2 separate regions of the Homo sapiens genome follow, and region 2 is linked to region 1. The links come from fine-mapping of genetic effects on gene expression. Tissue or cell type: thyroid. Region 1 holds a variant in brackets; the other region holds the start of a gene. All regions are shown on one strand. Distances are from middle to middle.

What was found. PIP is the estimated chance that this variant, and not a neighbour inherited with it, causes the effect.
Region 2: ALCAM starts here. The variant in region 1 is fine-mapped to the expression of ALCAM in thyroid (GTEx, PIP above 0.99).

What each region holds. Positions count from the first base shown.
Region 1 is chr3:105,482,127-105,486,522 of GRCh38, forward strand. The region is part of intron 1 of ALCAM (activated leukocyte cell adhesion molecule); the gene reads left to right. Among named protein-coding and RNA genes, the nearest start is that of ALCAM, 120 kb to the left of the region's middle. The variant C/T (reference allele first, on the strand shown) is at 2,723.
Region 2 is chr3:105,364,875-105,369,270 of GRCh38, forward strand. ALCAM (activated leukocyte cell adhesion molecule) reads left to right here and starts at 2,035. Exons shown (of 16, transcript NM_001627.4): 1 at 2,035-2,607. The coding sequence starts at 2,535. RefSeq lists silencers at 1,980-2,079, 2,410-2,529 and enhancers at 3,560-3,719, 4,056-4,396.

The sequences.
Region 1 (4,396 bases):
TTTTTTGAGACAGTCTCACTCTGTCGCCCACGCTAGAATGCAGTGGCACGATCTTTGGTCACTGCAACCTCTGTCTCCTGGGTTCAAGCTATCCTCCTACCTCAGTCTCTCAAGTAGCTGGGACTACAGGTGTGTGCCATCACGCTGGCTAATTTTGATATTTTTTGTAGATATAGTGTTTCACCATGTTGCCCAGGCTGGTCTCACATTCTTGGCCTCATGTGATCTGCATAACTTGGACTCCAACTGCTGAGATAACAGGTGTGAACCACCATTCCTGGCCCTTAATTCATATTTTAAAAGAAAAATTTCAAAAATCTCAAGTAAGAGCTTTTTTTGTTTCCAGAGAATATATTAGGAAAATTTGAATTATTATTTTTACTCTCATTATTTTAGTATAGTTTGTCCATTTCAGAACAAATAAATTATATAAAAACCACCAGACAATTCTGTTCATTTTGAATGATACCACATGTCTGAGACCAGGCCAGAACTGGAACACACCACACAAGAAGGGTAAGATTGAAGCTTATCCTATAGCTTTTGATAAAGTGTATTTATTCAGCCTATACTTTATATTAAAACACAACATCCATTAGAATTATGTTGTTCTATAAATGTTATATTAAAAAGCAATGTAATTTGCTAGTTAATTGTTTCAGGATTTGTGATTGAAATCACAAATTTCAGAATTTGTGGAGTCGTCTTTCTCTGTGAGTCACTAATTTTACAAGACAGCAATCTGAGGTGCTTTAGAAAAAAATCATACCCAAGAACATGTAAGTAGTCATGGCTACCTGAGGAGAAGGGAAGCCAGACTGGTTTTCATAGAAACAACTAAATTTCCCTTTGTCCCCAGCCAATTTCCCCCCTGATTCTCAATCTAAGGGGATTAGTAGAAAACCAACTAGATTATAAATGAGTAAATGAATTTAGATTTTGCCTAGGCTTTCATTTTTCAGAAAGATTTCTTTGACTTCCAACTTGGGGAAATTTACCTCTCATATATGCCTACTGCTGGAAGATAGCAGGCATCATGTATTATTTCTTTGTCTCTCTTCATTTATTACAATAAAGTAAATGAGGGGAGAAGCTATATCTTAGTCATCGTTTACTCATTTCTGTCCTATTTATTCATCAATAAATATTTGCAGAGTGCCTACTATGTGTTAGGCATTAAAGTGAGCTGTGGTAAAGAGAGGAAAGGGTGGGAGGACAGATACCAGATATCAGTAAAAGAAAGATATTAGGAGAACTTTGTGATTGATTAGATGTGGGTGGCTGAGAGTAGTAGCGAAACCCAGGGTGACTCCCAAGTGCCCAATTTTGTTGCTTGTATAGATGGTCAAATTAGTGACCTAAAGAAAATGTACGGAGAAGCTTATGGAAGATAGGGTAAGAAAAATAAGAAAACAATTAGTTCTGTTTGTGCCTGTAAAATGTCTGTGAAACATCCAGGTGAAAAAGATTTGTGAGCAATTGCAAATGTGGGGCTAGATCATAGGAGTGTTGCCAAAGCTGGATATGCAGTCCTTAAAAGATCCCTCTAAAAAAGGATGTGGTTGGTATAATCTAAACAACTGCAGTCAGAGAAAGAGAAGGATCATGCAGGAGATCAAGATACCATGGAGATCAAACAAGGAATGTGTGTTATAGAACACATGTAAACAGAAGTTGCATTGGGGTGAAAAGGGATGAGATGAACTACACCTAATAATGAACAATTTTTATCAGATTTATAGTTTGCTACGTATAGAATACCAGAGCTTAACGTGCCTGGGATTATACAAAACCCAATTAAGTGACAAGTACTTTTTAACAACTTACCTGTTCTTAGACAAGTCTTTTATTGTCTCCTTCTCATGTTTTTTCTTTATTTGTAAAAATGAAGATATTTGATAAAATGATCAGAAAGCTGTCGCCTAACATTAATATATTACATACAGTATTAGAGGTATAAAGGAAAGCGTTCTTGGTCAGAAGCAATTTCCTAACAAAAGTAGACAAATATAGCCATTGTATGTCAAATACATATTATATATAAGAAAATCAGCCATGTAAGGAAATACTGAAATAGTACAACTAGGAAAGTTACAAAGTAACTACTACCATTTTTGCTCTACTGGATGAATTACTTTTGTTACATATACTTTTTATATATAATTTTAGTTATATATATATATTTATTTATATAAACTGGGAAATCAAATCAAGAATATCTATGATCCGGATATCTGTGATATTCCCTTTCACCAGCTACATCTAAATGGCATGCTGCCATACCCAGGATTTTAAAGAAAAAAATGTTTAAATCTCAATAATTTAATTTCAGATGACTGAAAGGTCAGTGAATCAAATTATTACTAGTCAATATTAATACATATGGTCATGGGAGGAAATAGTCTATTGATTGATTTCTACACACCTAATTGAAAAATATTTACCAAAACTCAAGCTTTCTGAGCCAAAGTCAATGTGGATGACTTTTGGAATGTCCTTGGTACCATGAAGATCTAAGGATATTAATACATAGTAATACGAGGGTCAGGCCAATCAAAGGAGACGACAGAAGAGGAATCATTAACATCCAAAGGCATTTTTACACTGTGATAATTATCCCCATTTGCTCAGGTTAATATGCTTTCAATGGAAACATGTGGAATAAACAGCTGTCATGGACATGTGCCACCAGAAGAAAAGCTCTTCTCAGCCAGAAAAACAA[C/T]TGGGAAGTTAGTGAACCAGTACATGCTCATACCTTAGGAAAGCAAATACTTTTCACTGAGCCCATAGACAAAATTAAAGTCTGGAAGAATTCTTTTTTTTTGGTGGGGGATAGGAAATAATACAAATCTTGAAAACATTCTAAAATATTCAGATAGGTTCCATAAATATTTGTTCAAAAATTAAAATAGAATAACCTTTTATTCATTGTTCAATTTTTATCTATCAAATCTCGAATTATGAAAACAAACTACACTATGCTTTACATAAGGGAATAGAAATAAAAGTAGGCATAGTCTGGTAATACCAAATCTTGCATCCTTAATGCATCATGAAAAGATGCTTGTGGATGTTTTGTCCAAATGGCTGGCATCAACACCCACATACAAACTGCTCCTGCTCAAAAAAATGCCCTTGTTTTTCTCTGAGTACAGCATTGATATACATTTGGAAGAAATCTTATTATAGTCCTGAAAGAAAGCTAGTAGATAATCTAGTTTATTTTTGAGATTCCAGACAGAACTACATTGTGTGTGTGTGTGTGTGTGTGCGCGCACATCCACATGTGTGTGACAGAGAGAAAGAGTCCACTGCATAACCAAAAAATATGAATTTGGTTCCTAGAATGCAAAAAAATATATCTAACCAGTACATTTTAACCCAGAAATGTTCAATTTAAGCATTAGGTCTATAATAATAAGTGGAAACGTTTGATCAACTATCATTTATTCATTTATTTAATAAATATACACATAGTAAATATTTATTACTATTATCATCTGTGTTATTGTATGAAAATCATTATGTTAATGAAATTATATATTTACATACTTCGGTTTTAGATTAAGCAATATGATATTGCCTGTAAGTGATCATTTTTACCTCAAAAATGACTGTTTCATATTTTTCTGCCTAGTATTTGATTTAATCACTGAATAATGATATATGTTAATTCAACAGCTTGTAAGGTCAATTTAGTAAAAGCACAAATTTATATGAATGAAAATAATGGCCTGCAAAGTTAAGATTTGACTCTGCTGTAGAAATGGACACAAATTACATCAATTTACCAAAAAGAATAGTTCTTACAATCAGAGTTAAGCAAGTACTTGCTCCTCTTGGTGGTTTACCAACTGCCAAAATAACAGCAAGATCAGATTTCTTCATAGAAAGTTATTGGTATGAAACTTTTTGGATTAAACAGTTGTTTCTGTAACTATTAACTAAATCATTAAAAGGGTTAGCCTATTTATAGTAACCTTGAACCTTTTTAAATTTAATGTTTTCAGATGAAAGCATTGATCCTTCCATGCTTCATAAAATGGCATCCCACTGGGCAGTGTCATTAGTGATAGTCCTACTGGGAGAGACACCCGTCCAAATTATTGAATGAAGAGCCTAATATAGTGAAAGATACTTCTAAAGTGCAGCTTGATGTTTTAAAAATGCTTTCATACATAATGGATGCCTACTGTACTCAGCTATTTGAGGTGTTGTAGCACTTACTGAATTTTCACATAAATTGCTGCTCTCTGAATAAGACTATTGTACCAGTTTATAAGGCTTGATATATTTTCTACCTTCCAAATGGGCATTCAACGAACTTAAATTTTATCTTTATATTGTACTTAACTGTAACTCAGTAATTTTTCTTAAAGGAGGAGAACAAATTGTA
Region 2 (4,396 bases), 120 kb before region 1:
GATCTCATTTGATCTTCACAGCAATCCCATGAGGCTAGCACTATTATCACTTTTTACAAGAAAGGAGACTGAAGCTTAAAGAGGTTAAGTGAGTTGACCAAGATCATACAGTTAGTGTCAGAGCCCAAATCAGTCTTCCTTTTGCAAATCTACCTTTAAGCAATTATGCTGTATTAACTCCCATCGTAAAATAGAGGAGATCAGATAGAGCGTTCGCGGACCTAGGTTAAATATATTGTCAGGTCGATTTATTCTAATACACCCCACTTACAACCACAGTGAAAAAGAAAACAATTCCCTAAAGCAATTCTACAGGAGTCCATGGAAATGCTAGCATTTCAGCCAAGCTTAGCTCAAGGAATATAGAGTTAAAAGGCATTTGCCTCCTAGCGATAGCCTTCCTGTTGATTCATAAGATGCAAATGAAATGTTAATGTTTAAACCAAGTGGGAGAAACTACTTATTTTGAGAGGAAAAAAATATGGTATAAAAGCTCTACTCTAGAATATTGTTAATGTAAGGAGAACTGGAAGAACAGGACAAGCAGGCTTTTGAGAAAAATCACAGCTGAAGATAGGGCTTAATAGTTTAGAGCACTAAAAGATAAACAATTTTAAAAATCAGTGTGTGAGTGTGTGTGTGTGTGTGTGTGTCTGTGTGTTGCGAGTCTCCAATCTCGCTGGTAACTCGCAGTTTTCTGATGAAAGTGCAGTATGTAACGATTACTAGTTGGCATCCTCTGCTGGAGACCAGTCTCACAAAAGGGTGACCCTGTGATGCACGAAAGGCTATTTAATGCCCCAGCGAAGTGCTTCAGGGACCAAGATTTTATTATTCTTTGGTGATGAGAGTTGTGATCCTGCATCCCTGATTTAGAGCCACTTAGGGCTCCGACAGCTCCACCCCGGTGTTCTAGAGGAAAATCTTCCTTCATGCTCTCTGCCTGATTTGAAAGCAACACAGCTTCCCGATGTTCCTCCTGGGAGGTGGTTCAATCTTTAGAAATTGCCTAAGAAGCCTGTCCATCTGCTGGAGTGCCTGGCTTTCGGGAACGGACCAAGACGGACTTGGCTTTTAATCTGAAATAATTTGAGGATTTTCTGTCTATAACTTAAAATCACCGCTTAACTCAAAGTAAAAAAGTGACACGCTCTCTAGAGGGCTTTTGTAGACATTGGGAAAATCCGTATGACGAAGTACGGTTTAGAAATTCCGGATTTAATTTCCCCCGGGAAAAGCAAATATCTTCTGTTGGTACCGGGCAGTCGACTCACGTAGTCTTCCTTTAAAACCAAGTCTATGCCAGCCGGGTGTGAGGGGAGTGGTGGGGGTGAGCAGGGGGAGGAGAGAGATTCGAAAAGTACAGGAGGAATCAGTCCAGTACAGGGGTTGCCCCTGCCAACAAGTAGCTATTCCTGTTAACTCCCAAGAAGCAAGTTTCCACCTTTGCCACTTCCTCCTGCCCTTTCCTTTCCTTTTCCCTTCACTCCCGCTCTTGGACCCAAGGTTCGCTCCCCACCGCCACCGCCCTGCCCCACTATTCTCTTTACAGGACAGAAGGCTGCAGCAGCACGGCGGAGAAAAATCTCTGAGGAATGAGTCAGTGGGATGGGCGTATGGGTGGAGGGAGAGGGCAGTCGATTTTTAAACCTCAGCGAGGGTGGGTGGGCAGTTGGAAGCCAGAGGCCTTATCACTGGGGCGCTGCAACATCACAGAAAGTGTTAGTCCCAGGGCTCTCCCTGGCGCGCGCGGCTCCTGTGCTTGCTTCTTATTGGCGGACCTGGCCCTGGGGGCGGAGCCGCGGTGAAGCACCGCTCATCCGGGCTCCAGGACCGGGGCACGCGGTTCTCCCTGATCCCGGAGCTGGGCTCAGGGCTCGGACTCAGTCCTGCAGCGCCTCTAGGCTGCGGATCCGCGCTTCAACCACCTGCTTTGCGCTGCGTCCGGGGAAGTGGGGAGGAGACGGGAGGGAGGGAGGAGGCGGGGAGAGGAGGAAAGAGGCAGCTTACACACGCCTTCCAGTCCCTCTACTCAGAGCAGCCCGGAGACCGCTGCCGCCGCTGCCGCTGCTACCACCGCTGCCACCTGAGGAGACCCGCCGCCCCCCCGTCGCCGCCTCCTGCGAGTCCTTCTTAGCACCTGGCGTTTCATGCACATTGCCACTGCCATTATTATTATCATTCCAATACAAGGAAAATAAAAGAAGATACCAGCGAAAAGAACCGCTTACACCTTTCCGAATTACTCAAGTGTCTCCTGGAAACAGAGGGTCGTTGTCCCCGGAGGAGCAGCCGAAGGGCCCGTGGGCTGGTGTTGACCGGGAGGGAGGAGGAGTTGGGGGCATTGCGTGGTGGAAAGTTGCGTGCGGCAGAGAACCGAAGGTGCAGCGCCACAGCCCAGGGGACGGTGTGTCTGGGAGAAGACGCTGCCCCTGCGTCGGGACCCGCCAGCGCGCGGGCACCGCGGGGCCCGGGACGACGCCCCCTCCTGCGGCGTGGACTCCGTCAGTGGCCCACCAAGAAGGAGGAGGAATATGGAATCCAAGGGGGCCAGTTCCTGCCGTCTGCTCTTCTGCCTCTTGATCTCCGCCACCGTCTTCAGGCCAGGTGAGCAAGGGCCTGGGAGCAGCCCCAGACAGACGTGGGCCTGGAGCAGTTTCCTAGGTCCCCGTCCCAGCCTCGCACCCCCGAGGCAGTGCGCCCAGGCGCGTGGTGGAGGTAAGGGGACCGCTGTCCTGGCACAGAGCTGTCCCCGGGCTCGGTCACCTGTGCCGCACGTTTGGGCTTGGCTGGTTAGCTCAAGTTTGGGCATCAAGCTGGGGAAACTGGGTGAATCTCCAGGAACTTGGTGCTCCGGGGTGGGCAGGATTCGCCTGACGCTCTCCCCTTGTCCCTGCGGCTCCCAGCTAGGCGGCGGACTCTTGCCCTCTGACAGTTCCTCCTGTCTCTGGGTATCCAAGTCCACGTCACTGCGCCCCGAGCAGTTTTTCTTTCGCTTAGTTCTCGGATGAAATAACTGCCGGCACTTTTTCGTGATAAATCCCCTAGTAACTTCCCCTTGGTGAGCCGAGGAAGGGATGGGAGGGGTAGAGAAGGAGAGGACTTTAATCACCTCCCCCCGCCCCCCTTGCGAAACCTGCTAAAGCTTAAAATCGTGGTTTCAACGTTACCCCCTGCGGTCCCCGTCCATTGTCTGGGCGGGTGGTGAGTGAAAGGGTGACCGCAGGCAGATAACACAGCCAGAACAGGAATTAGTAGGTAGGCCTGGGAGACACCTCAGTGAGAGGTTTGTGAATTTCCAGGACCTGCTCATAGAGCCTCAGTTCTCAGTTCTGTACTGAGTCTTGGAAGAGAGAGAGAGAGAGAGAGAGAGAGAGAGAGAGAGAGAGAAAAGGCAAAATTCCCAACAACTAAAATATCTCTCGGGAAATCCCTTTCCACACCCTCGGGGACGTCCCCTGGCCCTGGTATCCTCAGGCCCGCCTGGCGGCTGACACAAGTTGTTCTAACAGGGTATTCCGTGCGCTCACAGTTGCCTGACAGAGCAGCAGGTTCCTTTGCTCCCCTAAACTGAAAATTTAGGGGATTTTTTTTTCTTTGAAGTTTTTTTTTTCTATCCCTGCGTAGACAGTTGCCAGTTAAACTCCTACTTCCTGGTATTTTGGCCTGTTTGTTCTTAGCTTTTTCTTTAGCTTTTATCAAAGAAAAATCTCACTTCCTTTTATCCGTGCACATCCCTTCAGCTGTCGGCAAGCTCAGGTCACAGAAGAGGTTTGAAAGCCTCTGAATCTCTCCCAGGAACTGGCGGGGAGAGGGGTTTGGGGGCCAGAGCCTGAGGAAGAGATTACAAGTGTTTGCGAGCTGCTGCTGCTGCTGCCGTTGCTGTGTGTGTGGGCGGGAGGAGTGCCCTCTCCAGATCTCTTTATTAAAGTTACATTTCTGGGTGAGGTAATGAGCTCACCTGATGTTTCTGAGGCTGAGGGAAAAAAAAGGCGTCTGCGTTCTCTGACAAATCTCGGGCTCTGGGGCGGGGACTGTGAAACCATAGTTCAACCGGATTTAAAGCAGGTGTCCTAGTGTAACAACGCTGGGGAGGTAGGTGGAAAGGCGAGACCCCCTTGGGCCTGGCACAGTGTGGATTTCACTTTTTCGAGATTCCACTGTCCGATGGAGGAAAGGACACTTTGGAGCCAGGGAATGAGCCAAGAAGGGAGGACAAGGGTGATGTCGGTTTGTAACATGCAAACGTCCACACGCCCACAGTTGGTTTTCCGATTAACCCCCTCGAGACTTGGAGAATGTAATCTCACCCTCGTCCACACCCCTGACACAGGCACATAACCAGTTTCCTTTTCGGTGCCGTCACAGGCGGGCCACGTCGCAGGATAGGTTTTTC